Linked DNA regions of Homo sapiens: region 2 is linked to region 1. The links come from fine-mapping of genetic effects on gene expression. A gene starts in region 1. The other region holds a variant in brackets. All regions are shown on one strand. Distances are from middle to middle.

Region 1 (16,104 bases):
AAATAGCACATTGTGGCTGGGCGGGGCGGCTCACGCCTGTAATCCCAGCACTTTGGGAGACCGAGGTGGGCAGATCACTTGAGGTCAGGAGTTCAAAACCAGCCTGGCCAACATGGTGAAACCTTGTCTCTCCTAAATATACAAAAATTAGCCAGGCATGGTGGCATGCACCTATAGTCCCAGCTACTTGGGAGGCTACTTCGGATGCTGAGGCAAGATAATTGCTTGAACCCAGGAGGCAGATGTCATGGCGAGCCGAGACCGTGCCACTGTATTCCAGCCTGGGCGACAGAGCAAGACTACGTCTCCAAAATAAACAAACACATAAAGCTAAAAAAAAAAAAAATAGCACATTGTGACAGACTGAAGCAGAAATGAGAATTCAGCTGTTTTCTATTAAACTAGACATCAAAGAGATTTGCAAAAATGTAAAATAATACCTTTCTTACTAAACTTTTTTGGTTTGGAAACAGCCATTTCACTAAAACATTTTATTTATGTCAGTATGTATATTTATTATCCTTATTTTTCAAATATTTTTAATTTCAGTAGCTTTAGGGGTACAAGTGGTTTTTGGTGACATGGATGAATTGTGCAGTGGTGAAGTCTAGGATTTTAGTGCACCAGCATCTTTGTAATGTACATTGTACCCAAAAGGTAGTTTTCATCCCTCACCTCCCTGCCACCCTCCTTCCTTCTGAGTCTCTATTATCCTTATTTTTTTAATGCAGTAATAGATATTTGAATAATAGCTTTACTGAGATATAATTCACATACCATGCAATTCACCCATTTCAGTGGTTTGTAGGATACTCAGACTTGTACGACCATCACTACACCAGTTTTAGAGGCTTTAATCACCCCAAAATAAACCCTGAACCCCTTAGTCATTGTCTCTAAATTCCCCCACCCCTCACCCCCTGGAAATCACTAATGTCCATTGTGTCTCTATGGATTTGCCTATCCTGAATATTTCATATACGGTAAACGGAATCAGGTAATATGTGATCTTTTATCACTGGCATCTTTCACTGAGAATAATGTTTTCAAGGCTCACACACGATGTTGAATGCATCAGAACTTTGTTTCTTTTTATGGGTGAATAATATTCCATTGTATGCATAGACCACACTCTGTTTCTCCATTCATTAATGGATGCATGCTAGGATTACCTTCACTTGCTAGCTCTTAGGAATAGTGCTGCTGTGAACATTTGTGCATGGGTTTTTGTGTGGACTTACGTTTCATTTATCTTGGGCACATACCTAGAGCGGAATTGCTGAGTAACTCAGTGTTTAACATTTTGAGGAACAGCCAGACTGTTTTCCAAAGCAGCTGTATCATTTCACATTCCCACCAGCAGCATATGAGGGTTCTGATTTCTCCACGTTAGTTAGTGTGAAGTGATACCTCACTGTGGCTTTGGCTTCCATTTTTCTGATGGCTAATGAGGTTGAGCATCTTTTTATGTGCTTATTTGTAAATAGAAATAGTTTTTGTAAATATAAGTATTTGTATTTGTAAATATTTATAATATTTGTAAATATAAATATTTTTAAGTTAAAAATCCTTGAATTTACAATAAGGTAAATATCAATAAAGATAACCTTTGGCCGGGCACAGTGGCTCACACCTGTAATCCCAGCACTTTGGGAGGCCGAGGTGGGCGGATCACCTGAGGTCAGGAGTTCGAGACCAGCCTGACCAACATGGTGAAACCCCGTCTATACTGAAAATACAAAATTAGCCGGGCATGGTGGCGCGCAGCCTGTAGTCCCAGCTACTCGGGAGGCTGAGGCAGGAGAATCGCTTGAACCCAGGAGGCAGAGGTTGCAGTGAACCCAGATCGCACCACTACACTCCAGCCTGGGCGACAGAGCGAGGCTCGTCTCAAAAATAAATAAATAAATAAAAATAACCCTCACTGGAAAAAAAAAAAAAGAGCTCTTTAGATCCTTAATAATTTTTTTCGCGTGTTCAGTGGCCCTAAGACCATGAAGTTTGCAAACCACCAGCTGGTGTTAAACATAAGCCAAGGTGTTATTCTAATGGAGATCTGCCCGAAGTCTCTCTTCCCTGATAAATGCTCTTCATTTTCCGAATAGGCCTCTCTTCCCCAGACAAAGGAGTGAAGGAGGGCTGCTCTTTTAGTTGTGAGCATCACTGTAAGCAAACAATAGGTTTGCTTTTCTGAGTCATGTCCAGACCCCATGGCAGGTCTGTGCACCAGATCCAAGTGCCACCCTTCCCCAGAATTGCCAGAGAGGTTGCAAGATCGAAAAGAATTTTAGGAGAGGTAGCTATGAAAATACAGACTTGGGGGTTCCACGGTTCTTACTTTTTTCTTTAGTTGCAACTGGAGACAAAAGCATCAGCCAGCCAGTTCACAACGGGAGCAGGGAGCAGAGAGAGAAATTAGCATTAGACTCAGATCAGTGCAATAACCAAGAAGACCAGAGATAGAAGTGTCCCTGGAGATCAGCTGACCCACTCACTGCTATCAATAAAGCTACTCGGGCCCATCTATCAGCCCATCCATCCATCGATAAGTCCATTCGTTCATCATCCATCCAACCAACATTCACATGGTACATGCTCTGGGCATTGGCCCATGTTTGGTGTTGGAGACGCAGATAAATCAGATTCAGCCCCTGCTCTGTAGGTATTTGCAAGGCTGATTGGGAAGAGAAGTTCTGGTATAAGAGTACACTAGACACCCCAAACTCTGTTCTCACAGAACTTGCTATCTATGGATGTCCCAAACATCTTACAGGTGCTTCAAGCTTAGCCTGTTCAAAAAAGAATCTGTGGTCATCACACTCCTATCCATCAAAAAATAATCTGTTAATGCAATACTTTTTATTTATTCTTACTATTTTTTGTAGAGATGAGTCTCACTATGTTGCCCAGGCTGGTCTCAAACTCCTGGCCTCAAGTGATCCTCTTGCGTTGGCCTCCCGAAGTGCTGGGATTAAAGGCTTGAGCCACTGCACCCAACCAATACGATAAATATCCCTGAGTTCACGCTGATATAAATAAATACAGTACTTGAATAAATAAATGGAGAAGAAAAGTCAGCTTTTCCTTACAGAGAAAGGCCATTGAATATATGTAGATGAATAAGGGGAATAGAAAATCACCATTGGAGAAGCACTGTAGCAATCATTTCTGCAGCAAGATCCACAGATGGATGCTAAAATTAATGGGCAAAAATTGGAGGAGAACAGGGTATTCGCATAGCCTCAAAATTTCTCCCCCAGCGTATTTATTAATTACAAAGGGGGAAAATAGTAACTTAACAGTGGAGAAACCTGGCAGACACCACCTTAGCCGAGGGACTAAAGTTTACACCATGGGTAATAAGACACATCAACATCATGTGGTCCCTGATATAATTCCCGGGGAAGGGTGTGAGACCACTTCTGTGGTATTCCTGCCCTAAATGCATAGTCTCAATCCAATCATGAGAAAGCTTCAGACAAACCCAAATTGAGAGAAATTCTGCAAAACAACTGATCAGAGCTCTTCAAATGTTTCAGGGTCGTGAAAGACAAAGATTGAGGAGGTTCAATCACACATCCTAAGGACAAATCACAAGACCAAAGGAGATGGGATAACAAAATGCAACATGGTTGAGCAAGAGCTGGATTTTCTGAAACAAAACAAAACAAAACAAAACAAAAAACTTAATTGAAAATACAAGGTGGGATCCTGGATTGGATCCTCAAATAGAATAGTTTTTCTATTAGTAGAAACATTAGTAAAATTTGAATGAGGTCTGTAATTTCTTTAATAGTTTTGTTCTGGTGTTGGGTCTTGCTTTTAGTCATTGTGCTATGGTTAGGTAAGATGTTAACAGCTGAGATAACTGGGTGAAGAATATTCAGAAACTTAATTTTTGTGACTTTTCCTCAAGTCTAAAATAATTTCAAAATAAATTTTTTAAAAAACGTGTTCCTCTACAGAGTTTTTTTTTTTTTCTTTTTTTCTTTTTGAAACAGAGTCTTGCTCTGTTTCCCAGGCTGGAGTGCAATGGCAGGATCTCGGCTCACTGCAACCTCCACCTCCTGAGTTCAAGCGATTTTCCTGCCTCAGCTTCCTGAGTAGCTGGGATTACAGGCCCCTACTACCATGCCTGGATAATTTTTGTATTTTTAGTAGAGATGGGGTTTCGCCATGTTGGCCAGGCTGGTCTTGAGCTTCTGACCTCAAATAATCCAGCTGCCTTGGCTTCCCAAAGTGCTGGGATTACAGGTGTGAGCCACCGCGCCCGACCTCTACAGAGTTTTCTCATCTCAGTTAAGGGCAGCCTCAATTCCCCAGTTGCAAATACATGTATGTATAAAGAGAGCCTTTCTGCATGCTTCTCTATCCCCAACCACCAGCATCTGACCCATCACTCAATCCTGTGAGCTGTTTCCTCAGTGCCTCGTAACCTTCTACTTATCCCCATCTTCACCCTGATGACCAAAACGTTTTCTAACTTGTGTGTTTGCCCCTAATCTGATTCCCACCTAATCCATTCTTTCCTGAGGGCAAGACACATTGTTTAAACACACAGAAACACACATACATGCACACACACGCTCCTAAATATGACACTCCTTTGCTGAAAACCCTTTCACAGCTTCCTTTTCCCTGAGGATAACATCCAACATTTTTCCTGTGACTCACATGCCCCCGTCTGTTCTGTTTCCTGCCTCCTGTCTCTTCTTACTTGTAACAGTCTCACCACCATGCCCCTCCTTCTGCCTACCACGTTCCTGACACACCGGCCTCTCTCTGATGGAGGGACTCAGTGCCTTCTGCCCCAGGACCTTTGCATATTCAAGTCTCTGCCTGGAATAGTCTCTCCTAACTCTTCAGCTGGCCAGCTCCTATTCCTTACCTCAAATGTGACTTTTCTAGAGAGGCCATCTCCGAATCCCCACACTAGAATGTGTGTGTTTAGCATGAGAATTCCATGAAGACAGAACTATTTTCATCACTATATTCCCAGCATCAAGCCCGTGGAAAGAACCAGGAATAAACATTTGTGGATCGAATGAGGAAATGGGAACTCAGAGTTATGGCAAGACCCAAGTCCTCTTCCCAATATACTCTTTGGTGTCTTTACGTCGCAAAAGTCTGGAGTCTCACTAGAATTATCTAACTATGGTAATGTTGACTTCCAGGCACTGCACAACGTAAGCTCGTCAATGACATGCAACAGTCCCATGAACTGGGGATTCTTGTGAGCCCCGTTGGTCAGATGAGGACAGCAAGGTTTGCAGACGCAGTGTCTCCCCAAAGTCACAGAATCAGTGATAGAAACCAGGATGCAGACACAAGTGTATCTCCAAGGGCAGGGGCTAGCAACCTAGACTCATTCACCCCACTGTGTCCATCAAGGGAAATGTGAATGTCTAAATGGGAAGCAAGAAGAAGTCTGTTAGACTTCAGGAGCTTCTCTCTGAATCCAGCCCACAAGAGCCTCCCAAGTTGTAAGAAAATACATAGAGGACACAAGGCATGGCTGGAAGCATTACCTTCACGAGGAGTACAGGCTTCTGCCAATCCCAGGAAAAGCAGAATCAGCAGCGACATTTTCAGAAATGGCTCTGATCTGTGCATGATGGGGCTGGGATTTGGGCTGAATGTTCTCCTCCTAGGATAGACAGGACTCTCTGGTCACCCACCGTCTTCCCAGGCTCCAGGGACAAAACTAACTGCCCACACCTGCCCTCTAGCCTGCCTGGAGGCTGGCAGGTCTCCAGACCTGTGCCCACGCCACCAACTGCTGACCAAAGAACTGTATCTGCTTTTTCATCTTAAAGCAACATTTTAGAACAGTTTCATGCTGAGTGTGATGCTTGTCATCCTATGATCTGCTGGCCAAATCCTGCCCTCCTCCTGTTTTTGTAGGGCCTATGAGCTAAGAGTAATTGTTACCTTTTTTAATGGTTGGAGGGAAAAAACAAAAGAAAATATTTCATGACATGAAGATTATATAGAATGTGAATTTCAGTGTCCATGAATAAAGTGTTATTGGAACACAGCCATGCCATTTCACTATGTATTGTCTACAGCAGCTTTCAGGCTGCAAGACTGAGCTTTGTAGTTGTGACAGAGACCATCTGGGCCAAAAGGCCTAAAATATTTACTGTCCGGCCCTTTATAGAAAACGTTTGTGGACCCCTGTCCTAGACGTACTGTAAATTTCAGAAAAACAACAAAGCAAGCAAACAACATCTATCGTATTTCTACTCAGAAGTAAGTATTGTTTTTACATTTTTGTGTATATTCCTTTCCAAAGATGTCTACGTTTATACTTACCTCTAGCACTTACTAGCTATGTACCCTGAGCAAGTTACTTAACCACTCTGTGCTTCATTTTCTTGATCTATAAAGTTGGGATAATGATATTTCCAGGCTAATGTGATACTATCATATCACACCTGTATGATAGTAAATTTGTACTGTTGTAGCCATTAAGTTTGTAATAATTTTTCATAGCAGCCACAGGGAACTAACTGTTTCCACTGGTAATTCTTAGAAATTGCTTTGACAGTCAAGAACTTTAGCTGTCAGTGGGAATATGAACTTGACCCAGTATCCCTCTGGACTCCTGGAATAAAGGCAGAGTGTAGAGACCACTGGTCTATCTAAGCTCTGAAGGTTTCTATGGTACTTCCTTCAAGCCTGATAGAAACAGAGGGTTGTGTGTAGTGTCCTGGAAGGAAAGAGTTCCAGGTGTGGAGGGATGTCCACTCTTGCAGGGGACTCTCTCCTGCCGCCATCTCTGGTGCTATCTATGTTTCAATCCCTAGTACAAGCTGGACCATCTCATGTACATTAGGGGATACCTCAGCGATCCTTCAGACTAGGCTGGAGGAGAGAGTTCTTGTTGGCCATTTGCCATATTTCAGAGCTCCCCTCCTTTGTGAGCACATGGTCCTGGCAACTCATCACCGGGAAAACGTGATACTACAGGATTTGTTATAATGAGCAGAAGAAACAAGGCGTAAAACATGTGGAAGGCTTTTCACATCCGGTGCTATGCGGAAGTAAAGACCACCCAATGAAAACAAGCAAAGGCTATTAATTCAGAGCTTGCTGTAATAAGGGAGGCCACTGACACCATTTGTGTTTGGCACAGACTCAAAGGCAGGCAGGGTAGTGGGAAAGCTTATAGTGAAAGAAAGGGAAGGCTTCAAGAGTGCCTGGTTGGAGGCCGTTGGCATAAGGAAGCTGGCAGTGGTTAATTAGAGGCCATTGTGATTGGTTGGGGGAGCATATTTGGATTTCTCTGATTAGTCCTACGTTTCGATTTTCCATCCTTCCTTAGCAGCCTCATTACCAGCACAGCTGTTTCTTTGCTTTATCAAATATAATCACAGTCCCTAACTCATAACACTAGGGTTTAAATGCAACAAATGCCTGGGATGTAGAACATCATTAATATTCTTTAGCATTATCTGCTCTGCCAGACTGTGATCTGGGGACAGAGATGAGTCAGATACTGGCCTTGCTCATGAGGAACTCATGCTTTAGGGAAGATCAGGATTTCTCACCATTGGCACAGCTGACATTTAGGACTAGATCGTTTTTGTGGTGGGGGCTGTCTTCCGCTTTGTGGGATATTTAGCAACATCTCTGGTCCCTATCAATTACACAGTAGCACCTGCCCCACCCACCCCACACCAACCACCACCGCCACCATGTTTGGGGAGCCACAACTAGGAAGTGATGAGCTTTTAGTGCTTATTACTCTATTTTTATTATAACTTATTTATGTTCAAGTTTATACAATTTAGTTTTGAGTATTGGGCTATGTTAGGCAAGCAGCTAAAATGAGGAATTTTACCTCAATTTAAAAATGTTTTAAATGTAGAAAACTGAAAACGTTAACAATTGACCCTCATAAGCTGGCTCCAGTACACGTATGTAATATTATTTTGTGTGTTTTTACATTTATTCTAAATGGTGTTTCACTGAATCTTTCTTGCACAACTTGCTAGCTATGTATGTATTTATTTATTTATTTATTGAGACGGGGTCTCACCCTGTCGCCCAGGCTGGATTGCAATGGCACGATTTCAACTCACTGCAAGCCTCCGCCTCCTGGGTTCAAACGATTCTCCTGCCTCAGCCTCCTGAGTAGCTGGGATTACAGGCGTGCGCCACCACACCTGGCTAATTTTTGTATTTTTAGTAGAGACAGGGTTTCACCATGTTGGCCAGGCTGGTCTCGAACTCCTGACCTCGTGATCCACCCACCTCGGCCTCCCATAGTGCTGGGATCTTTTTTTTTTTTTTCACCCAGCGTGATGTTTGTGAGATCCACTCATGTCTATGTGGAGCAGGGAAGTGGTGCTGGACCTGGAGACGGCAAAAAACCTGGTTGTTATAGTCACAGACAGCCAATCAGTTAGAATCACAGACATTGAGTCAATCCAGTGTGGATGCCAATCCCTGCCCCACCACACTACGGCTGGCCTGAGTTTCTTCTTGCTACCATAACAAATTACCATAAAATTTGTGACTTAAGACGACATAGATTTATTATCATACAGTTCTGGAATTGAGAAGTCTGAAATGGGTTGATAGAGTGAAAAGCCTTGGTAAAGCTACATTCCTTCTGCCGGCTCTAGGAGGAATTTGTTTCCTTGCCTTCTGCAGCTTCTACAGGCTGCCCACATTCCTGACTCCTGGTCGGCCTCTTTCATCTTCCTAACCAACAGCATGGCGTCTTCAAATCTCTCTCCAACCCTCTCCCATTTTCAGGCCAGCGATGGCCGGTCAAGTCTTTCTCACCGTACATTGCTCTGATTCTCTGTTTTCATCATTCCGTCTCCCTCTGTTACCCATTTCCCTCCCTCTTTCACTTACAAGATCCTTTGTGATTACATTGGACCTACCCCAGTAATCCAGGATAATCTCCCCACAAGGTCAGCTGATTAACAGTCTTATTTTTATCACATCTGAGAGTAACACACTCCCAGGTTCCAGGAGTCAGATGTGGGTATCTTCAGGGACAATTATTCTGCCTGCCTCACAGATGCATAAACTTGCTCAATTGACTATATCCCTGAGCCTCGGTTTCCTCCTATTAATGATAGCAACAATTATTATCATTAATTATTATATTATTATGCCATATAATTGTGAATGTTTTAAAGTATATTGAGGGGATGTGGAGAAATTGGAGCTCTTATACATTGCTGGTGGAAATGTAAATTGGTATAGCCCCTGTAGAAGATAGTTTGGCAGTTTCTCAAAAAGTTAAATATAGGGCTACCGTATAACCCTGAAAGTCCACTCCTAGGTATGTACCCGAAAGCACGGAAAACAGGTAATTACACAAATATTCACACACGAATGTTCACAGCGACACTATTCACTAGAGTCAAAATATGGAAATGATTCGAATGTCCATCAATAGATTAATGGGTAAAGTGTGGTATAGCCATATAATAGGATATTATTCAACTGTAAAAAGAAATCAAGTACTGATACATGCTAGAACATGGGTGAACCTTGAAAATATTATGCAAAGTAAAAGCAGCCAGACACAAAAGACTACCTAGTGTATGATTCCATTGATACGTAATATCCAGAACAAGTAAATCCTTAGAGACAGAAAGTAGATAGTGGTTGTCGGGGACTAGGAATGGGGAGGGAAAGAGGAATGGCTGCTTAGTGAGATGGGGTGAGGGGTAAGGAAAGTGTTTTAAAACTAGATGTGGGTGACGGTTGAACAACATCGAGAATGCACTAAAGGCCACTGAATTGTACACTTAAAATGGTTAATTTTATATCATATGAATTTTACCTCAATTAAAAAAGTTTTAAATGTAGAAAAATGTGTTAAAAGCTCTAAAAATAGCAATTAAAAATCCCATGTTACCAAAACAAAACAAAGAAAACAGTACAAGCATAGGGACTGTGCATATTAAAAGTAACTAAATTTAAAAAGTATTAAAAGTAACTAAATTTAAAAATTAAACCAGCAGCAGCAGCAGCAGCATCTGAGGCTTCTACAGGGAAACAAGTGGAAATAGTTCAACCCCTCTGTACAGTTCCTGGGGCAGTCCCAGAGCTTGAGCAGGTGGGAGGGATGAGCATTCTGTCCCTGCCGCAGGGGCCATTACACCCACAGGGGCAGCGCCCACACAAGGGGTCTCGGCTGCAGCTGGCATGACTGGCTCAGCCACACCAATGCTTCTGTGTCCTGGGCAGCCTGGCTTCCCAACCCCCAAGGAGTCCCAAGCCACTGACTAGGTCCTAGAATAGACAACCCATGTCCTGGGCTCTGGCTGGCTCTCCAGTCAGTTCCTTCACATCTATCCTAGATAGAGGAGCCCTTGGAGTCTTCTGTCCCCCACTAAACAGATAAGGGAGCAATGGGTCAGAAGTTTCAGGGATTTTTCCCAGAAGGGACCTGAAAAGTGTCATCGGATTTAGCCAGGCTCTGAAATCATAGAGGTGCGGGATCAAACCTCAGCTCCCTCCACCTCCTGGCTGTGTGCACTAGGACAAGGATTTCTTTTCTTTGGACCTCAGTTTCTCAGGGAGTAAAAATGGAGGTGTCATAGCAACAGTCGATACTTTTTCTAGCACTGACTACATCCCAGATGCTCTTCTAAGAGCCTTTGCCTATAATAACTCCTACAACACTATGAGATGGGAACTGTTATTAGCGTCATTTTATAGATGAAAAAAGTGAGATCTAAAAGCATAAGGTCCACTCAGAATCACACCACTAGTAATTGGCAGGACTGGGATTCGAAGCTAAGTATATGAATCTGCAGTGAATGCTCTAAACCAGCCCTGTCCAGTAGAACTTTCTGCAGTGATAGGAATGTCCTGTATCCGTGCTACCCAGAATGGTGGCCACTAGCCACGTGCGGCTGCTGAGCACTTGAGGTGACGCTAATGCAACTAAGGAAATGAAGTTTTCATTTTATTTCATTATGAAGCATGTAAATCTAAATAGCTACGTGGTAAATCTAAATAGCTACATATATTGGACAGTGCTGCTCTAAATCATGATACTAAGCGCCTCTCAGCCTTAATAGACTATATACCTAACAGGGTTGCTATGACAGTTCTGACAGAGCCATATGTGTAAAAGCACCCTCTGTGAACCAAGCAGTCTCGGTGTTGGGGATGCACTTTCTCTAACCCTGTGGAGTTTATAGTCTGGTGTAGGAAGACAAACAACAATATTGACAAACACATATATAATTTCATGTACTGGTCATTGCTGCAAAGAAACTGAAATAGGGCCATGTGTTAGAGACCGATGGGGTTGAGATGCTGCCGTAGCTAGAGTTGTCAGGAGAGACCTCACTGAGATGGTCACATTTGAGTTTAGATCCTAATGAAGATCTGGGGTAAGAGTAGCTTAGACAGAGGGAACAGCTTGTGCAAAGACCCCGAGGCAGAAAAAAGCAGAAGGAATTTGACACGCAGAAAGAAGATCATTGTGGATGGAGCAGGGTAAGCTCATGGGAATGTGGAGGGAGGAGAGGTTAGAGTGGTAGGCAGGGGCCAGATTGTCAACAAACCTGAGTGGGCTCCGCCGTGAGAATGATAGTAAGCACAAACCAGGAACATTCCTCTTTGTCTGCTTTCCCTGGGCCCTCTTACACCCACTTGGTTCTCTATTAAATATGGGCATCTCCGGCCAGGCACCGTGGCTCACGCCTGTAATCCCAGCACTTTGGGAGGCCAAGGCAGGTGGATCACGAGGTCAGGAGATCGAGACCATCCTGGGTAACATGGTGAAACCCCGTCTCTACTAAAATTACAAAAAATTAGCCGGGCATGGTGGCAGGTGCCTGTAGTCCTAGCTACTCGGGAGGCTGAGGCAGAAGAATTGCTTGAACCAGGCACCGAGATCGCGCCACTGCTCTCCAGCCTCAGTGACAGAGTGAGACTCCATCTCAAAAAAAAAAAAAAAAAAAAAAGTGGGGGCATCTCCCAAGCAGAAAGCAAAGCCTAAGCCTACTCACTTCTTTGGGGAGAGAGGAAGAAAGTCTTGGACAGTAATTGAGCATCCTCTTTGGGCACCTGCCCCAACAACTTCACACACATTATCATCTCATTTAACTGAGGTTGGATCTGCAAAGGCAGCTTGGCTTGGCAGAAAGAGCGGGAGCTTTGGAATGAGGGCCTAGATCTCACCGTGGGCTCTATCACTTGGTGCTATTTTTAGCAAGCATGCAGTAATAATCATAATACTCTCAGCAGTTAAGCTTAATTGGGTGATTATGATGTGCCAGACGTGGTTCTAAGCACTTCATATCTATTAGCTCATAATTTTAAGAGCTGGGTAGTATTATAATTTCTCTTTGCAAATGAGATAACTTTGCCCAAAGTCAACAAAGCCAATAATTGGAAGAGGTAGGATTTGAATCTATACAGGTATGATTGACATTTGTGAACTTGTTTAGCTGCTAAGTCTCTATACCCTGATTTCCTTTGGAAGAATTACCTCTGCTCCACTGTATGTGGTCCTGGTGGGATAGTTAATGCACGTGCCCATTTTCTCATAATGAAAAGCAAGCAGGGTCCCTCAAAGCTCCTTGCACCAGATCCTTATTTTTACACTAAAGCCAACCAACCTTTGTCCTAAGCCAGGCTAATCAGACTGCTTACCTGGCACTTTAAATCTCGAATTGAGTAAAGCAAGAGTGGAAGAAGCAGATTTAATGCTTTTCAGGTGAGAGTGTTGAGTGGCTCATGATACAGAAATCTCTTGGTTTCCCAGGCTTCACTCTTTCCCAAACCCACTCTCCAGCCTTCACTTTAATCCTTTGAACTCCACCCCTTTGCCAGTTCCTTCCAGTGATTTCTCTTTTAAGCTAGCCAAAGTCCGTTTCTGCCACTGGAACCCAAAAAACCTGCTTGATTCAAGAAGTTCAGCTCTGTTTGTGTTCTAAGGCAACCTCTGGCTGCTGTCCTTCTGTACATAGTCTTCCTTCCATTGGATCTCTCAAAGAGAAAGCTCACTTCCTCAGTTTACTTTCCACCAGCTTTAAGTTTCAAGCCTTACTGCTTGCTTACAGCTTTAACCACTTACATAGAGTATAGGTGCATACTAGATGCTCAATTAATATTTGTTGAAATGGTATTCAAGGTGAAAGATTGAGAAGTGAAGATGGTTTGGAATTGTGTTGTTGATGCCTTTATCATGGGAGTGCCCTGTGCTAGGATGGATCTGAGAATGGTTTTTTTGTAATTCTGAAATAAGCCCATGTGTCTCCCCTACTCCAAATCCTTCCATGGCTCAACATTACATACAGGATAAGCATTTATTTAATTTATTTATTTATTTTTGAGATGGAGTCTCACTCTGTCACCCGGGCTGGAGTGCAGTGGTGTGATCTCAGCTCACTGCAACCTCCGCCTCCCAGGTTCAAGCAGTTCTCCTGCCTCAGCCTCCCGAGTAGCTGGGATTACAGGCGCCTGCCACCACACCTGGCTAATTTTTGTATTTGTAGTAGATACGGGGTTTCACCATGTCTGCCAGGCTGGCCTTGAACTCTTGACCTCAAGTGATCCACCTGCCTCGGCCTCCCAAAGTGCTGGGATTACAGGCATGAGCCACCGCGCCCAGCCCTAGGATAGCATTTATGACTAAAAGCTTTAGTGTGACCTAGATCAAGAGTAGGAAAACTTTTTCTGTCAAGAGCAAGATAGTAACTATTTTTGTCTTTGTTAGCCATATGGTCCCTGTCGCAATTACTCAACTTTGCCACTGTAGTGAGAAAGCCACCAGAGACAATACATAAGCAAGGGGAGCTAGCTATGTTCCAATAGAACTTTATTTATAAAAACAAATGGTCAACTATAGTTTGCCAGCCTCTGATACAGACTCTTCATACTTCATAGTCCAGTCTCCCAACACTTCCTCATCTTACCTTGATTTCTACTAAATGAAACTTTGACTTCAGGATTCAGATCTGATGTCACTTCCATAACACATCTTTCTTGGAATGTACTGCATCATTCCTGGAAGATGGAAGATCTCAGTTAATAGGAAGACCTGAACAAACAGGTCATTTTCTGTAGTGGAATGAGCATGAGCTTGAGAGTCAGATCCAGGTGTAAATCCCAATCCTGCTACTCCCTTACCCTGAGATAGTGTCCAAAAAGTCTTTCTTGGGCTGGGTGTGCTGGCTCATGCCTGTAATCCCAACACTGGCAGGTTGAGGCAGGTGGATCACTTGAGGTCAGGAGTTCGAGACCAGCCTGGCCAACATGGTGAAACCCCATCTCTACTAAAAATACAAAAAATTAAGCTGGGTGAGGTGGCGGGTGCCTGCAATCCCAGCTACTCAGGAGGCTGAGGCAGGAGAGTTGCTTGAACCTGGGAGGCGGAGGTTGCAGTGAGCCAAGATAGTGCTGTTGCAGTGAGCCAAGATCATGCCATTGCACTCCAGCATGGGTGACAGAACGAGATTCCATCTCAAAAAAAAAAAAAAAGTTTTTCTTGGAGCTTCATTTTCCTCTTACATAAAATCATAGACTTTTAGGGGGAAATAAATGAGGTGAAGGTTGTAAAACACTTAGCAATATGTATAGCATATAATATTTATATGGCTCATAGAAGCATAATACTATTATAATTATTGTTATTACATGTTATTATCATGCATTATCATCATCTCAGAGGTTCTTATGAAATCTATACTTCTTTAAAAATGGTGATTTTCGCAATTCCTTGTCTTTGTTTAAATGCATAATTCTCTCCTCTCTCGCCTCCCTTCTTTCAGATGTTTTAGGTAGAAGTAGAAAGAGGAAAGTGTTAGAGTTTCTTCCAAAGAATATGGGAAGATGTTCTGATTGCGTCGTTTAGAACATCCAGGGTCTAGAGTTGCAGTTTTTCTGGGTTAAGGCACTCAGAACATTTTATCTATCAAAGCCACTTGGGACTGGTAGGTCCTGATAGCATAGATGCAGGATTCCTTAATGCCCTTTGCAACTCCATCCCTGTAAATTCAACGAGCCTCCTTCTGGCTTGGAGATGAAAGGAAGATGAATAAGATGATTCTTACTAGATCTGGGATCCCAAAGCTCTGGCTTTCGGAAAAGTGAAATATTATTTGTTCCAGAGGGCACATAACATGTTCCTGGCACATTGGAGGGCTATTCCTCATAAGCTGGAGCTCAGCGCTTGCCCTTAAAATGCACTTCACCCAGCTCACCGTCTCATGTAGGCCAAAGCTGGAAGAACCTTAGATATCACCACATTCCAGAAGCCCAATGCTAAATGTTGAGTATGTGGGCAATCTTCTTGGAAGAAGAGTTGAAGCTGTTACCAAGTCATTGGAGGTATGCCTGGCCCCAAGAAGGGCAAAGGATCACTGCCTAGTCCCAAGGCATCATTCAGATGTGCATGTGAGGAGTCTCTACCAAGTGTCTCTATGTTCAGTAATACATACTCCTACCTTACCCATCACTAAGGAATTTATAATCTACTAAATTTGTTTTTAAAAAAGTATTGTTTCTACCAAAAGACATATGCAAAACGACTTACAGCATAATTACCCATATAGATAAACGTTGGAAATAATCCAAGTGTCCGTCAACAATAGAATGGATAAATAAATCAAGGAATGGATAAATAAATCAATGGAATATTGCACAGCAATAAAAAGGATGAACTATCGATACATACAACCACATGGATGACTTTTATCAATATAATGTTGAATGAAAATCAGGGCCGGGCGCAGTGGCTCATGCCTGTAATCTCAGCATTTTGGGAGGCTGTGGTGGGTGGATTACTTGAGGTCAGGAGTTCGAGACCAGTGTGGCTAACATGGTGAAACCCCGTCTCTACTAAAGACACAAAAAAATTAGCCGGGCATGGTGGTGGGTGCCTGTAATGCCAGTTACTTGGGATACTGGGAGGCTGAGGCAGGAGAATTGCTTGAACCCAGGAGGCAGAGGTTGCAGTGAGCCAAGATCATGCCATTGCACGCCAGCCTGGGCAACAGGAGCAAAACTCCGTCTCAAAAAAACAAAAAAACAAAAAAAAAAAAATTAGAAACGAGACTGCATACTGTAACATACAACTTTTATGAAACTCTAAAATAGTCAAAATTAATT
Region 2 (16,104 bases), 970 kb after region 1:
TGCTGGGCCAGCCTGACTCAGGTCACTGTCTCCTGGGTCCTGAGGCCACCTCCTCTTGGGGACTGAGGTGGAAACACTGGTTGCTGGGTGGTCTCCAGCAATTTCCATGGGGCCTAGGATGTTACCTGAGGTCCCGTGGCGGAGACCTCGTTTTTCTTTTAAGAGAAACTGAGTGGGCCGGGCGCAGTGGCTCATGCCTGTAATCCCAGCATTTTGGGAGGCTGAGGCAGGCAGATCACTTGAGGTCAGGAGTTTGAGACCAGCCTGGCCAACATGGTGAAACCCCGTCTCTACTAAAAATACAAAAATTAGCCGGGTGTGGTGGCACGCACCTGTAATCCCAGCTACTCGACAGGCTGAGGCGGGAGAATCATTTGAAACCCGGGAGGTGGAAGTTGCAGTGAGCTGAGATCGCGCCACTGCACTCCAGCCTGAGCGACAGAGGGAGATTCTGTCTCAAAAAAACAAAAACAAAAACTGGGGGGCTTGTCATAGCAACCACGGTGACTCGGAGGCCTGCACCCCCCACCCCATTCTCCTTTATGAGATGGTGGCTGAGCCCCCCAGGGTGCCTGTTAGTCCTACATCTTCCAGGGTGTGCCCGTTTTGAGACCCCTGGTTGCTGAGGCCAGCTTTCCTCGGCAACGGGGTCCAGTGGACCTAATTTGCTTTCCGGTTGCCCCTAGCAACCATGAGAAAAGAGGGTTTCTGCACCTCAGCACGACTGCCATTTGGGACCCAGCTGTCGTGGGGGGCTGTTCTGTGAATTGTAGGGTGTTTTACAGCATCCCTGGCCTCCACCTACAAGAGGCCATTGGCATCCCCCTGTTTTCCCCAGTTGAGGGGAGGAAAAATGTCTCCAGACATTACTAAATGTCCCTAGGGGGTTGGGCTAGGCTGAATAACGGCCCCCTCCAAAGATGTCCACATGCAAATACCGAGAACTTGTGACTATGTTTCTTGATGCAGCAGAAGAGATCCTGTGCTGTGGGGAAGGTGAGGGACCACGAGTTGGGGGATTATCTTGGAGTATCTGTGCAGGTCCCACTGAGTCACCTTTTCCCAGCTAAGGTCAGTCAGAGGGATATATGGCGTCACTGGCTTTGAAGATGGAGGAACGGGCCTTAACCAGAGCGCCTAGGAACTGGAACACACAAGGAAACAGTCTCTGCCAGAGAGCCTCCAGGTGCAGCCCTCCAGGCACCCTGTTAGCCTGCAGAGACCATGTGGGACTTCTGACCTCCAGGACTGTACGAAAATCACTTGTGTTGTTTCAGCCACCAAGGCTGTGTCATTTGTTGACGGCGGCCATAGAAAACAAACACGGGGTGAAACCAGCTCCCCTAGTTGAGAACCACGGCTCCAGAGCAAAAGACCTGACCCTGGGACTCAGAGTTTCTGGTGACAAGGCCAAAGCTGCCCTGGCTCCTGGCCTCAACGCTGGGCCGTTTCCTTTCAACGGGGTCCAGGGGTCCAGGAAGGGGCATGGGTCCTGTGAGGCTGATGCTGCCTGACTCCCCTCAGAGCAGACGGCTGTCCACGTGCCCTGCAATGGGGCCCAGTACCCTGTTTCACTGTGTCCCCTGTGACCCCGTGTCTCAGGAATGAGGGCTGATTTCCAGGGCAGGCGCTCTCTTCCCTTGAGAATTCTGGCTACCTCTGGTTGCTTGGGCGAGTGCCCCTTATGCTCTCTACTGAACACTGCATCCTCCCAAATTCATGTGCTGAAACCCAATCCCAAGGTGATGGTATTAGGAGGTTATGTTAGGAGGTGATGAGGTCATGAGGGTGGGGCCTTCATGAATGGGATTAGTGTCCTTAGGAAAGAGGCCCCAGAGAGTTCCCTTGCCCCTTCTGCCATGTGAAGACACAGCACCAACGTGCTGTCTGTGACCCAGGAAGCAGCTCTCACCAGGCACCAACGCTGCTGGCAGCTTGATCTTGGACTTCCCAGCCTCCAGAATTGTCAGCAATAAATTTCTGTTATTTGTAAGTTGCCCAGTGTATGGTATTTTCTTATAGTAGCCTGAACGAACTAAGACACCTTTGCAACAAACCCTCTGCTCTCCTGATTGCTAGAGAATTTGAGTCTTTGATGACCAGGACTGGGAGCCCGGGAAGGCCGGATTCCCCAGAGCAAGATCTTGCACATTCCCATGAACTCAGCTTAGAATTCTGGTTGCTAGGGACCATTAGGCCCTAGCCCCAGGGTGAGGTGACTTGTGAGACCTGCAAAGATGGTGACCAATTTGTCCTGGGTTTAGACTCAAAGCCCTGCATCCCAGAAACACCCTTCAGTCCCAAGCAAACCAGGACGGTGGGTCACCGTCCTCCTGGACAGAGGTCCAGAACCTCTGTTGGCAGGATGTTCCCTGACCCCCAACACAGAGCCTGTCATCTTCTTAGGGACTCCTGGGAGCCAGTCCTCAGGTTGCTAAGGAGACCCTCCTCAGGCCCCAGCCTCTCGGGGAACCTGCTCACAACTCTGCAGATAAGACCTCAGCTACGACAATGGTGAAGGAGCCCACCAGCTGGGCGTCCTCTGCAAACCAAACCCCAGAGCACCTGCTCATGCTGGACCTCTGCCCGCCACCCACCGCCCCCGCCACCCACGCCCCCCGCCACCCACGCCCCCCGCCACCCACGCCCCCCGCCACCCACGGCCCCCGCCACCCACGCCCCCCACCACCCACGGCCCCACCACCCACCTGCCAGGGCCTGCACGGAGGGCTGGTCATGAGTGCTCAGGAGCTGTGCCTGGATGGTCTCCACCACTCGCTTGAACCGACGGCTGGGACCTAGAGGCACAGGCGGGCAGAAAAACACTGACTGGGGGTCCAGGACCGGGAAGGCCGTCCCAGCCTGCAGAACCCAGTCCCTCCACCAAGCACACAACACCCCCCCTGCATCTCCGTCTCCCCTGCTCCGCTGGGGCCACATCAATCCACGGTTTGCAAATGGGTCTGTGCTGCTATTTAAGGATCACGGTCAAACTCACATACCTTCAACTTCAAATAACAGGTGTTGGTTTCTATTCAAATAGATACTATTGCTTGCTGTTAGTTTCTAGCGGAGGCCATGAAGGACCAGAAATGTAAGAAAAATAAGTTGGAGCCAGGTACAGGGGCTCATGCCTGTAATCCCAACACTCTGGAATGCCGATGTGGGCAGATCACTTGAGGTTGCTCAGGAGTTCGAGACCAGCCTGGCCAACATGGCGAAACCCTGTCTTTACTAAAAATACAAAAATTAGCTGGGCATGGTGACGCATGCCTGTAATCCCAGCTACTCGGGAGGCTAAGACAAGAGAATCTCTCGAACCCAGGAGGCAGAGGTTGCAGTGAGCCCAGATCACGCCATTGCACTCCAGCCTGGACGACAGAGCAAGACTCTGTCTCAAAAAAAAAAAAAACCAAACAACAACAACAACAAAAAAAAAGAAAAAGAAATCGGAGAAAGTCTTTTCTTTTTCTTTTTTCTTTTGAGACAAGGTCTCATTCTGTCACTCAGGCTGGAGTGCAGTGGCGCGATCACGGCTCACTGCAGCCTCAACCTCCTGGAATCAGGTGATCCTCCCACGTCAGACTCTGGAGTAGCTGGGACTACAGGTGCATGCCACCGTGCTGGGCTTTTTTTTTTTTTTTAAATTGTGTGTGTGTGTGTGTGTGTGTGTGTGTGT[GTGTGTGTGTA/A]TAAATTTTTTTGTTTGTTTTGTAGAGATGAGGTCCATTATGTTGCTCAGGCTGGTCTCAAACTCCTGGGCTCAAGCAATCCTCCCACCTCGGCTTCCCAAAGTGCTGGGATTACAGGAGTCAGCCATCATGCCTGGCCTCAGAAAAAGTCTTAAAATTGAGAAAGGTCTGCATATTAGCCTTTTTTTTTTTTTTTTTTGAGACAGAGTCTCGCTCTGTCGCTCAGGCTGGAGTGCAGTGGCACAATCTTGGCTCACTGCAACCTCTGCCTCCTGAGTTCAAGCGATTCTCCTGCCTCAGCCTCCTGAGTAGCTGGGATTACAGGAGCCCACCACCACGCGAGGCTTATTTTGGTATTTTTAGTAGAGACAGGTTTCACCATGTTGGCCAGGCTGGTCTTGAACTTCTGACCTGCTCGTCTCAGCCTCCCAAAGTGCTGGGATTACAGGCGTGAGCCACCGCGCCCAGCCTGCATGTTAGTCTTTAAGGGGGACAGAAAAATAAAGAGTCATAATTGGTTTTGGTGACGGAACACCCACAGTTCCACAGCCGTTTGGTTTAGAAATCTTTGGGGCAAGCCCCTCTCCCACCTGTGACATATTAATATTGGTGACAAAGAGATCGGCGATATCCCTCCCTATCCAAATGCTCACTATCAGGATGGAGGGACCAAACAGAAAGCAGAACTGGAAGCAAGGTATTTTAGTGGTTTTCCTTTCTTGTGCCAAGCCTCGACTGGTCATGGCTGCCTGGAGTTCAAGTTCCTGAGGCTGCCACTGAGCTTAGCAGGAATAAGCACTGCCATCAATTGGTAATGTCTGCTCTGGGCAGACTGATATTAGACAGCAGTGTGCTGTGTCTTCACCCTTTGGCTCTACCATCTTAAAGTAATAGGAAGAGCTGGGCTCTCTCCTCTGAAGTTGGGAGGCCTGGGTTGGGCTGCAGCTCTGCGACAGTGTATTGTGTGACTCTGGCCAAGTCCATTGACCTCCCTATGACTCAGTTTTCTCCTCCGTAAAATGGGTGATTACTAACACCTCAGTAGGCTGCTTGGAAGCTTCAAGGAGATAATGCATTCATTATTTACACTGTAAATGCCAGGGAAATGCTGATGAGAGTGGGGAAATAGAGGATGGGCTTGTGGGGCGGTCTGTGTGGGCAGGAGGAGCACAGAGAGTCGGCACCAGCTGAACACCATTTCCTCCTCCTGCTGCTGCACTCCTGGGCCCCTACACTGTCTCAGCTGTCGTGAACAGTCCCAGCACTGGGCTGCAGGCAGCCTAGCCAAGAGACTCACCCGAGATGAGAGTGAAGGTGACGGAGTAGATGCCACCACCTCCGCTGCCGTCCCGTCGCGGGGAGGGCTCTGGACCCTCAGAGGAGCTGATGTCCACCTGGAAGCGGACGGGCTTTTGGAAGACGGAGGGGCCGCCACTGGCCTTGTACTCGGCCCTGAAGCTGGTCTGTGACAGCACACTGTGACTCAGGCTGGGGATCTGAGCGAGGTAGGAACACAGGAAGGGGTGAGCCCAGGAAATGGATACCCAGCCCCACGACCAGCTCTGGCCAAGGAACTACGAGTCCCATGAGCCACTGGAGGGAAAGAAGGACAGGAAATGCATTGGGAGGCCCCACTGCCTGCAAGGACTTGTAGCTTTCTCTATCCTATCAGCGAGTAAGGGAGGAATGGTTGGACATCCCCCTAACATCATGAGGACTCTGATAGCTAGGTGACAGCCTCAGACTCCAAGACCACATGAAACACTGCTTGCTCCCTTTACAAATGCTTCCCATAGCCATATCTGTCACAGAAACTCTAAGTCCCATCCACCCGTAGGCATAAAACCACAGACCAGCAATGGGGCAGCCTTAACATTGCCTGGGAAGTTTCTTCGGCTAGTTTCAAACCTCGCAGTAGGGGAATGGGAACTCACCAATCCTTGAGGACATTGCAATTCAGGATCCTATTTCCCCAATTCCAGGCCTCTGGCCACGATAAATCTTTCCTGCCTACCGACTTCTAACCAACTCTGGCCATAAAACTACAAATCCCATGAGCCCCAGGAGGAAGCCAGGCCTATGCTAAGGTGGTTAGCCCCAGGGGCTGCTGGGACTTGTAGTTCTGCGGGGGCCAGGCTCGATGGGGACCCAGGCCCCTCACCGACAGAAAGGCATGGACGATGTCTGCTTTGATGCTGCTGAGAGGTTTGTCCTTTAGCACGAGGAATATTTGTTCTTCTTTGTCCAAGGAGATGAAGTTCCCGAACCAGGAGCGTTTTGCCAGCCTGAGTGGGAGGGGGTGGTTGGAGGAGGGTTAGGAAGGCGCCGAGGGCATGAATCCCCTGCATCCCCACTCTTTCCTTCCCTGTGAGACTCACTCCGGGGAGGACTCTGGCGTCAAGCTGGACATCTCCTCAGCGGTAGGGACTGGTAGGGGGAAGGCAGAGAACGTGGTCAACACCTGTGCATCATCCCAGTTGCCAGCACACAGGCCTGCACTCGCCCCCTCCCAGGGTTCCAGAGCCTTGGGTTGCAGCCTCGGCCAAGCCATCCCTCCTGGGCGGGGCTCACAAACCACGGGCCAATGGGAGGTAATCCAGAGCCCCAAAGGCGCGTGCCCTTCAATCGGGGTCCTCCTCCAGAGCTAGAGGCCCCACCTCTCTCCCCAACAGGTGCACCTCTGCTTCAAACCCCCTCTTCTCTAGAACGTGGGAATCCAGGCCCCCAGTCCCTTCCTCTCTAGACACGCCAGACGGACATCCCTGGAACCAGATTTTTAGCCCCAACCTCTCCCCACATTAGGACTCGGCAGTTCATGCCCCCATACCCTGCATCTTGCGCCGGTGAAAGCGAGGGGAGCCCAGGAAGCTGTTGCGGATGGAGTTGAGACGACTCCTCCAGGCGGCTCCCCCGACGCCACCGCCGGGGCTGGGGGGTGGTGTTGTCCCCGGGGTCCCGGTGGGACTGGCCCGGGGCGTGTGCAGAGGCGAGTGCAAGGGGGTCCCGCCAGAGGAGCGCGGGGAGCCTGGGGGGCCGGGCAGGGGTGTGGAGCGGGCACTGGGGGGCGGGGGCTGCTCCCCGGCGCCCCCACCCCTGGGGCCCCGAGAAGGCAGCGTCTGCGTTTTGGAAGTCGGGGAGCCCCCGCCTCGAGCCTCATCTCCAGCCCCCGGCTCCGGTGAAAAGGAAAAGACCGGACTCTGCAGAGGACAGGAGACTGAGATAAGCGAGTGGACTACAACTCCCAGGAGGCTCTAGGAGCCCCACTCACACGCACACTCACGGACGCTGGCCCGGTGCATGCTGCAACTTGTAGTCCAAGTATCCTCCTTCCCAGGCCCCAGAGCAAGGATAGCAAAGACTTTCTATCATGCTGTGGGCTGAAAACCCAGCCGGTGCAGATACTAGTACACAGCAGGCACTCAACTAACTTTTGTAAAATCTCTTCAGGCATGCAATCCTAAGGAGGTAGAAATGGCCAATGGACCAAAATACTTTGGAGGCCTTGGGTCTTTGGCCCTCCAGGGACAAAGAAGCAAGTCTCAAGACTGCACAGGAATTGTAGTTTCTGCTACTCAATCTTTGCTCCATGTCTCCACCCCTTTCTCCTTCTTAAATCCCACTGGGGACCTGGCCTTACCCTTGGGCTGCTTAGAGGGCTGGAGGACAGACCCGTGGAGGCTCCACTGACGCTACGGGATCTGTTTCCAGGATAGATTTAAAAAAAAAAAATCAGATGGGAGGGTTTCAAAAACCACAGATGTTCCCTCACTTCTACAGTCCTTCCAGGTGAGGAAATGAGGCCCAGAGAGGGGAGGTGAATTGTCCCAAGGACACAGCACATTTGAGGTAGAGCTGGGGTTAGAATCTTGAACTCCTAGACCCAGGGATTGTGGATCCTCCTGGAGGGACAGGGGCTCCCACCTCTGGCTGTGCTGGGCCATCTCCAAGGCCCGTCGGGTGGGTACAGGGGAGCCACCACCCCCGGCATCGGTGATGCTCAGGACTTCCATGGACTTCCGCTCTGGTCGCCGCTTCCCGTGACGGCTCAGCATGGGAGAATCCACACGCTTCCGGGGGGGGTCTGAGGGACAACAGTTTCAACCCAATCAAGAGATGGTTTCACCCAGCTGTGTACAACTGCCTCAGAAACTGCACACATGGGGAAACAGGCCTAGAGTGGAGAGGGGATTTGATAAATGTCAAAGAGCAAGTCAAGCAGTCTAAAGCTGGAAGCTCAGAGCCTGCAGCCCCTTCTTTCCTTGGGAATCTGGGGTCCCCGTGGCCAGCCTCTTCCAATCTCGAGACCCAGGTGTCTGGTCCCCTAGCCCTGCCTTCTCACCAACATCATTCCGGGGAGGCAGGTCCTGGTCCTCACAGCTGGGATACCGCTCCTTCCGATCCAAAAGCAGATAATATATCATCTTTTCTTGGTTCTCCCTAAGGCAGGGGGTGGGAAAGGTGGAAAGAGGTAGCAGAGGGCTGAGGTCCAACATCAATGCTCAGAGGAGGTCTCCTCCGCTCCCTGTATTTCTGCCCATGGTTCCATTTTTTCTAGGTATCAGTATGGTCAGTTTCTCTGGTTTAGGGTACATCTCAGCTGTGTTTCACTCAATTATAATAACACTGTAACACCTAACATCCAGGCAAGAACTATTTGTAAGTACTATGTATATGTAAGTACTATGTCGCAGCATCTATTAATACTTTCTCAGCGTGTTTCTGGGCCGTTTTCTCCGCTGGTTCCATCACTCCCAGGCGGGAGCTTCAAACCATGCCCCATGAGAGGCCAGGGTTCCTCGCCCAGCACTCTGCATGTGCGCAGGGAGCTGCTGCAGCTCGCCCCACGTGGGTACACGGGTGCAGGGGTCTTGGGGTCTTACTCCTCACTGCGCAGCTCGCGATGCAGCCTCTCGCGGTCCCTGAAGCAGCCCAGTGATGCCATGCTCTCTAGGACGTCGGGGTCCAGCTCTCCGTTGGATGGCAGGCTCCGCATGGCTACCCGGCGGCCAGGGGCTGGCTCCAGGCACGGGTCTGGCTCGTGTTTCCCGCCTCTGGGGAAGTGGAGAAACATTATTGGGAACCGGGCTTCTGAGATTCAGCATTCTTCATTCTAGACTCAATGATCCCGGACCCCGAAATCCGAGTCTAGGCCCCGGCCCCTTCTCTCTCATACCCAGGAATCCAGACGCCCCAGACCTCGCCCCCCATCTCAGACCCAGGAGTCCAGACCTCCAGCCCCTTTTCCCTCCGACCGAGGGGTCCAGGCCCCCGGCCCCTCCTTCTTCAGACCCAGAAGTCCAGGCCCCCAGCCCCTCCTCCCTCGGATCCAGGAGTCCAGGCCCCCAGTCCCTTTTTCCCTCAAACCTGGGAGTCCTGGACTCCTAGCTTAGCCCCTCCTGCCTCTGACCCCTAGACTCCTTCTCTAGCTGTGTCCTCTTCCCCCAGGACCCATAAGTCCGAGTCCCTAGCCCGTTGCCTCTCAGGAACCCTGGCATCCCACCCCTCCCAGCCGCTTCTACTGCTTTGGCCCCTCCCCTATTTCCGCCAGGGACCCAAGAGTCCAGTTACCCCATACTCACAGGTACCAAGGATGTTTCTGAATTTGCTCCAGCTGTGAGGGTGGTGAGTCGTAGAGAAGCAGAAGTGAGGTCGTAGGCACATGTAGGCGCGCAATGAAAGACTGGGGTGGTTTTGGGGTCCCTGATCATCTCCCCGCCCACCCCACCGGGGGCAGGATGACATATTACATCGCCCTCTAGTGGCGACTGAGTGCATCGCCCCGCGCACGCGCGGTCTCCGTGTACCCCGGACCGGCCGCATTACTTTGCCGCATGCGCAGTGGCATCCTGTTCGCCTCCTTACTCCTGCGCCCTCCCGCTGCCTGGAGCTCCCCGCCCCAATCTTGCGTAGCCCCCTCCCCAGTTTGGAGCGGCAGCTGTGCTGGACCTTGGGCTGCGGCTCAGCTGGCGATCCCAGTCACCCTGGGGACTGACGAGCAGGTTCTGGAAACCCATCCCCATGACTTTTCTAGGGGGTTCTGTCTTCATCGGCCACTGTTCCCCCCTCCGCCGGTCCCCCCCTCAACTCACACTGAGCCTTTTTTCGGGCTCCACTTCGATCATTCCCCTCAGGAGGCTCTGGCAATCTGGAGGAATGAAGTGGGGCATGTGGAAGACGCCCCGTTTCACCTTCTCCAGCAGCTGGCGGAGGTTGTCGTCATCAAAGGGCAGAGCCCCCTGGGCAAGAGATAACCAGGACCCCTCATTAGCACATTTCACCCTCACCACAAGCACTGGAGGTGGGGAACTACGGTGATCTCCACCTTAAGGGGTTGGAAACTGAGGCACAGAGAGGCTCAGCAATTTGCCAAAGGCCCCTAGCTCGTCCGTGGCACAGCAGGCACTTGGCAAGGAGCAGCTTGGAGCCCCGCTTACGAAGCTAGAATTGCAGCGTGGAGGCTGTTCCTTTTAGACAGCTTTCCCCCCACAGCAGTTTCGAAACGGTTGTCTCTCATTCACTCATTCAACAAAAGGTGAGCATCCGTTACAGGTCAGGGATCCAGCAGTGAACAAAACAGGCCTCTGCCCTTGCACAGCTCCAAACAAATAGCTATACAATGACGAGCGACTGAGTGAGGCTTCTCCCAGGAGGTGCAATGGGAGCAGAGACCTGAATGAGGCTGAGCCCTAAATCAATGACTGGTGTCCTTATAAGAGGAGACGAGGACGCAGGCACAGAGAACAGTCATGTGATGACGGAGGCAGAGATGGGAGTGATACAGCTGCAACTGAAGGAACGCCAAGGACACCAGAAGCTAGGAGAGGCAAGGAAGGATCCTTCCCTAGAGCCTCCAGAGGAAGCAGGGCCCTGCTGACACCTTTTCTTTTCTTTCTTTCTTTCTTTTTTGAGATGGAGTTTCGCTCTTGTCGCCCAGGCTGATGTGCAATGAGGTGTTCTTGGCTGACTGCAACCTCTGCCTCTCCCAGGTTCAAGCGATCCTCCTGCCTCAACCTCCCGAGTAGCTGGGATTACAGGCATATGCCACTATGCCCGGCTAATTTTTTTATTTTTAATAGAGACGGGGTTTCACCATGTTGGCCAGGCTGGTCTCAAATGCCCAACCTCAAGTGATCCACCTGCCTCAGCCTCCCAAAGTGCTGGGATTACAGGCGTGAGCCACCACACCCAGCCTAATTTTTGTATTTTTAGCAGAGATGGGGTTTCACCACGTTGGCCAGGCTGGTCTTGAAGTCCTGACCTCAGGTGATCTGCCCGCCTCAGCCTCCCAAAGTGCTGGGATTACAGGTGTGAGCCACCGCACCTGGTCCCCTGCCTTGCTTTGAATCCTTGCTCTGGGGCTTATACCTGCATGACCTCAGGCAAGTCACTGCTCTGAAAATGGCAATGGGTCGTCACAGCACCCACCTCACGGACTGCATCAGAATGAACTGACCTAGTACATGACAGTGCTGGGCCCACAGTCAGGACTGTTACAGGCTGGCTGCTGTGACGCACTGACCATAGACCCCACCACATCCTGCATTCTGACGTAGCCACCAGCCATGAAGCAGGGGACAAAATCACATCCCTGCCCTCCTGGAGTTGGCCTGGGACGCTGCCTGACACACACTCGACACTCAAGTCATCAGCAAAGGTGGTGGAATGAGCAGAGAAGTTGCATTCCAGAGGGGACAGGAAACAAACAAGCGAACGTATCATACGGGACGGGAGGGAATGCTTCCAATCACCAGGGCAAGGGTTGGAGGGGAGCCAAGGTGACCCCCCATGGACAAAGACTCATGGGAGGTGATGGTGTGAGCCTTTGAGGGCTTTTCCGGGTGTTGCAAGCTCCCAGTTGCCCCTGGTATCTGAGGCCTGTGGACGGAGAATGGGGAGATACAGAGAAGGCACCTCTGAATGCCGATCTTAGGGTGCGGAAGCCTGGGTTTGACTTCTGGTTGCCTGATGCTCAAGCACAGAGCCTCAGTTTCCTCTCCTCTGTGAAACGGACATAATGATCCTGCCAGGAAGGGTACGGTCTGGATTAAATATTATAACAACAGGCTGGGCATGGTGGCTGACACCTGTAATCCTAGCACTTTGGGAGGCCAAGGGGCGAGGATCACTTGAGTTCAGTAGTTTGACACCAGCCTGGCCAACGTGGTGAAACCCCATCTCTACTAAAAATACAAAATTTAGCCGGGCAAAGTGGCGGGCGCCTGTAATCCCAGCTACTCGGGTGGCTGAGGCAGGAGAATTACTTGAACCCAGGAGGCGGAGGCTGCAGTGAGCCGAGATCACACCACTGCACTCCATCCTAGGTGACAGAGAAAGTCTCCATCTCAAAAAAAACAAAAAACAAAACAAAAAAAAAAACCAAAACAAATTATAACAACAATACAGTTGATTCTTGTTATTCTTGAGAGTTCTGTTCTATAAAGTCACTGCAAACTCTCAACTAGTGAACGAGTCACGGCTACTGGAGGAACTATAGTTAGTAAGCTTCCTTTGACCCTCTCGTCACATTTTTGTCAACCAGTCATTACATGACCTTGTTTGTATGTGTTTCTGTTTAAAGACACTTTTCTTTTTTTATTGAGACGGAGTCTAGCACTGTAGCCCGGAGTGCAGTGGCATGACCTCGGCTCACTGCAGCCTCCGCCTCCCGGGTTCAAGCGATTCTCCTGCCTCAGCCTCCTGATTGGCCAGGCTGGTCTCGAACTCCTGACTTCGTGATCTGCCCGCCTCAGCCTCCTAAAGTGCTGGGATTACAGGCGTGAGCCACCGCACCCAGCTTAAAGACACCTTTCATATGTACTGTGTCATTGACGCGGAACTCATGGCCAGCAGCACTACAAGTCATTCCTGAACAAAGCATGCCCATCAGAGGGGCTTTCTCCAGAAGGGACATCACAGCCTCCCGCGCTTAGGAACACCAGACGGCACTTCAGAAGCACTTGGCTTCATGGCCATTTTAAACAACGAAATTGCCACCAACAACACAAAAATGTGAAAAACGTGACACGAAATAGGTGGTGAAAGGGGGATTGTTTACAGGATGAGAGCTGAAACAGGGTCACTTTGTTTGACCTCAGCCGGAAACCTGCACCTTGGGTGGGCGGCTCAGGTTTCCCCTGCTCTGGGCATGTCTGCCAATGACTGTGAAAGCACCTCCAGGACTATTTTGGGTTACAGATACATTTTGACAGGTAGGCAAATTTGCAAATATGGAATCTGCAAATGATGAGGAACTATTGGAACAAGAATAAACTACTAGGCCAGGTGCGGTGGCTCATGCCTGTAATCCCAGCACTTTGGAAGGCTGAGGTGGGCAGATCACTTGAGGTCAGGAGTTCAAGACCAGCCTGGCCAACATGGTGAAACCCCATCTCTACTAAAAATACAAAAATTAGCCAGAAATAACTTGAACCCAGGAGGTGGAGGTTGCCGCGAAGAAGATCAAGCCATTGCACTCCAGCCTGGGCTACAGAGCAAGACTAAGACTTCATCTCAAAAAAAAAAAAAAAAAAAAAAAAAAGAAGAAACAAAAAAAAAAGAATAAACTACTAATAATAATCATCAAGCATTGTGCCAGGGGCTTCACGTGCAGCATTTATTTAAACCCTCACAGTGGGCTGGGGGAAGTGGCTCACGCCTGTAATCCCAGCACTCTGGGAAGCTGAGGCGGGTGGATCACCTGAGGTCAGGAGTTCGAGACCAGCCTGGCCAACATGGAGAAACCCCATCTCTACTAAAAATACAAAAAAATTAGCCAGGCATGGTAGCAGGTGCCTGTAGTCCCAGCTACTTGGGAGGCTGAGGCAGGAGAATCTTGAACCTGGGAGGTGGAGGTTTCAGTGAGCCAAGATCGCACCATTGCACTCCAGCCTGGGCGACAAGAGCGAAACTCCGTCTCAAAATGAAAAAATAAATAGATAAAATAAAAATGAAAACAAAACCCTTACAATGATAGGTATGATGTGTATTTCCACGGTGCAGATGAGGACACTGAGGTAGGGTGACTGGCTCGCTCAGGGAGAGGGAGCAGGGATTGGAACTCGGCTGGATGGGCTCCAGAACCAGGCTTTTAGCCACCAAGTGAAGAAGGGCTGAGTTCTGAACATTCTTAGCTCGTCTCCAGAGCACCTCGGCTGCTCTCCCCATGGAGTGGTGAGCCCCAGGAAGCCAGCTTGGAGCTGGCCTCATTGCCCTTAGTATCCGTTATGTAGCCTGGTGGTTAAGAGACCAAGGACTGACCCCAGGCCTGCGGCTTATCAGCTGCGTGCCCGTGGGCCAGTCACTTCCCCTCCCTGGGACTGCTGAGGGAATTGTGTGAAATAACATGATCAGAACAGTGCCTGACATTAAAAAAACTGCTTATGGCTGGGCGTGGTGGCTCACACCTGTAATCCCAGCACTCCAGGAGGAAGAGGCGGGCGGAGGTCAAGTTCGAGACCAGCCTGGACAAAATGGTGAAACCCCATGTCTACTAAAAATACAAAAATTAGCCAGGCGTGGTGGCACATGCCTGTAGTCCCTGCTACTTGGGAGGCTGAGGCAGGAGAATCGCTTGAATCCAGGAGGTGGAGGTTGCAGTGAGCCGAGATGGCGCCACTACACTCCATCATGTGTGACAGAGCAAGAATCCGTCTCAAAAACAAACACACACAAACAAAAAAACTTATGTATTCTTTTTCTTTTCTACTTATTACTTATTTATTTATTTATTTTTGAGACGAGGTGTCACTCTGTCATCCAGGCTGGAGTTCGGTGGCATGATCATGGCTCACTACAGCCTTGACCTCCAGGGCTCAAGCAATCTTCCCACCTCAGCCTCCTGAGTAACTGGGACTACAGGCAGGTGCCACCATGCCTGGCTAATTTTTTTTTCATTTTTTTTGAGACGGAGTCTCGCTCTGTCGCCCAGGCTGGAGTGCAGTGGCATGATCTCGGCTCACTGCAAGCTCCGCCTCCCGGGTTCACACCATTCTCCTGCCTCAGCCTCCCGAGTAGCTGGGACTACAGGCGCCCGCCACCACTCCCGGCTAATTTTTTTTGTATTTTTAGTAGAGACGGGGTTTCACCACGTTAGCCAGGACGGTCTCGATTTCCTGACCTCGTGATCCGCCCACCTCGGCCTCCCAAAGTGCTGTGATTACAGGCGTGAGCCACCGCGCCCGGCAATGCCTGGCTACTTTCTTAACTTTCTTTTGAGATGGGGTCTTGCTTGCTATGTTGCCCAGGCTGGTCTTGAACTCCTGGGCTCAAGCAATCCTCCCACCTTGGCCTCCCAAAGTGCTGGGATTACTGGCGTGAGTCATTGCGCCCGGACAACTGCTGATTTATTCTCACTACAGGTGTTCACTGGGGACTTACATGTGTCAACTTTAGGTTTGCAAAGGCAAGCCAGCAAAATGAAATAAAACACACAAAGACAGATGCCCCAGACATCGGCCCTGACCTCAGGGAGTTGATGATACAGAAGGGAAGGGAGATGCCACTCAACGAATTAGGCAACAAAATGCACAGCGACAACTCTGATCGTTGCCAGGAAGAAGGGAGCCTACCACAGGGGGGTCTGACCTTACAGGAGTGGGGAGGAGGAGTGGGGGCAGGGGAAGCTTCCTGGAAATGTGACAACTGAGCAGAGAGCTTGAAGAAGTCTAGATATGAACTAGGTGAGCAACAAGGCTAATAGGTAGCAGAGTGTCCCAGGCAGAAAGGCCCTGTGGTAGGAGCAGGGCTGATAGCCTACGATCTGGCTATATATATATATTTTTAGATAGGGTCTCACTCTGTCGCCCAGGCTGGAGTGCAGTGACGCGATCTCAACTCATTGCAAACTCAACCTCCTGGGTTCAAGCGATTCTCCTGCCTCAGCCTCCTGAGTAGCTGGGACTACAGGCATGCGCCACCAAGCCCGGCTAGTTTTTGTATTTCTAGTAGAGATGGGGTTTCACCATGTTGGCCAGGCTGGTCTCAAACTTCTGGCCCCAGGTGATCTGCCTCCGCTCGGCCTCCTGAAGTGCTGGGATTACAGGTGTGAGCCTCCGTGCCCGGCCTGGTTATACTTGTTATTACAGTATCACAATGCCCTAGAATCAGCTGGTAAACAGTCATTGTATCAAGCCCTCCAGGTGCTCCTGGATGACTTGTTCCTTTCTGGGGTTCTTCCTGGAGACTATCCCATAGTTCTTTTATCTTTTTAACCCACAGTTCTGTGAATGAAAAGGTTAGCTCCCCACAGAGTGGGGGAACTCCAGGATCTTGGTCTGTTGGTTAATGTAGTATCTTTCCCATTACCAGTGAAATATTCGAGAGATGGGCTGGGTTCGGTGGCCTCACGCATGTAATCCCAACACTTTGGGAGACTGAGGTGGGCAGATCACTTGAGCCCAGGAGTTTGAGACCGACC

Which allele goes with the higher level. Alleles are on the strand shown, and positions count from the first base shown. SD is a standard deviation of normalised expression in the study named.
For the expression in B cells of the gene that starts at base 5,700 in region 1, GTGTGTGTGTA is the high allele of the variant in region 2 and A is the other (large effect, 1.0 SD a copy in Fairfax 2012).

Evidence for each region. PIP is the estimated chance that this variant, and not a neighbour inherited with it, causes the effect. A credible set is the group of variants that fine-mapping cannot tell apart.
Region 2: its variant is the best candidate, but not a certain one, in a credible set for the expression of EDDM13 in B cells (Fairfax 2012, PIP 0.54).

Annotation. Positions count from the first base shown.
Region 1 is chr19:56,262,344-56,278,447 of GRCh38, reverse strand. EDDM13 (epididymal protein 13) reads right to left here and starts at 5,700. Exons shown (of 15, transcript NM_001354658.2): 1 at 5,529-5,700; 2 at 2,339-2,356. The coding sequence starts at 5,613. The region is part of intron 2 of ZSCAN5A (zinc finger and SCAN domain containing 5A); the gene reads left to right. It overlaps LOC124900420, which reads right to left and starts at 5,700. Exons shown (of 5, transcript XM_047439799.1): 1 at 1-5,700.
Region 2 is chr19:55,295,333-55,311,436 of GRCh38, reverse strand. BRSK1 (BR serine/threonine kinase 1) reads right to left here. Exons shown (of 19, transcript NM_032430.2): 8 at 9,779-9,925; 9 at 9,269-9,300; 10 at 8,570-8,740; 11 at 8,029-8,126; 12 at 7,611-7,770; 13 at 7,327-7,387; 14 at 6,517-6,886; 15 at 6,068-6,116; 16 at 5,851-5,974; 17 at 4,987-5,185; 18 at 2,709-2,798. It also overlaps a transcript of TMEM150B not described here. Among named protein-coding and RNA genes, the nearest start is that of BRSK1, 19 kb to the right of the region's middle. RefSeq lists a silencer at 7,902-8,196. The variant GTGTGTGTGTA/A (reference allele first, on the strand shown) is at 3,680.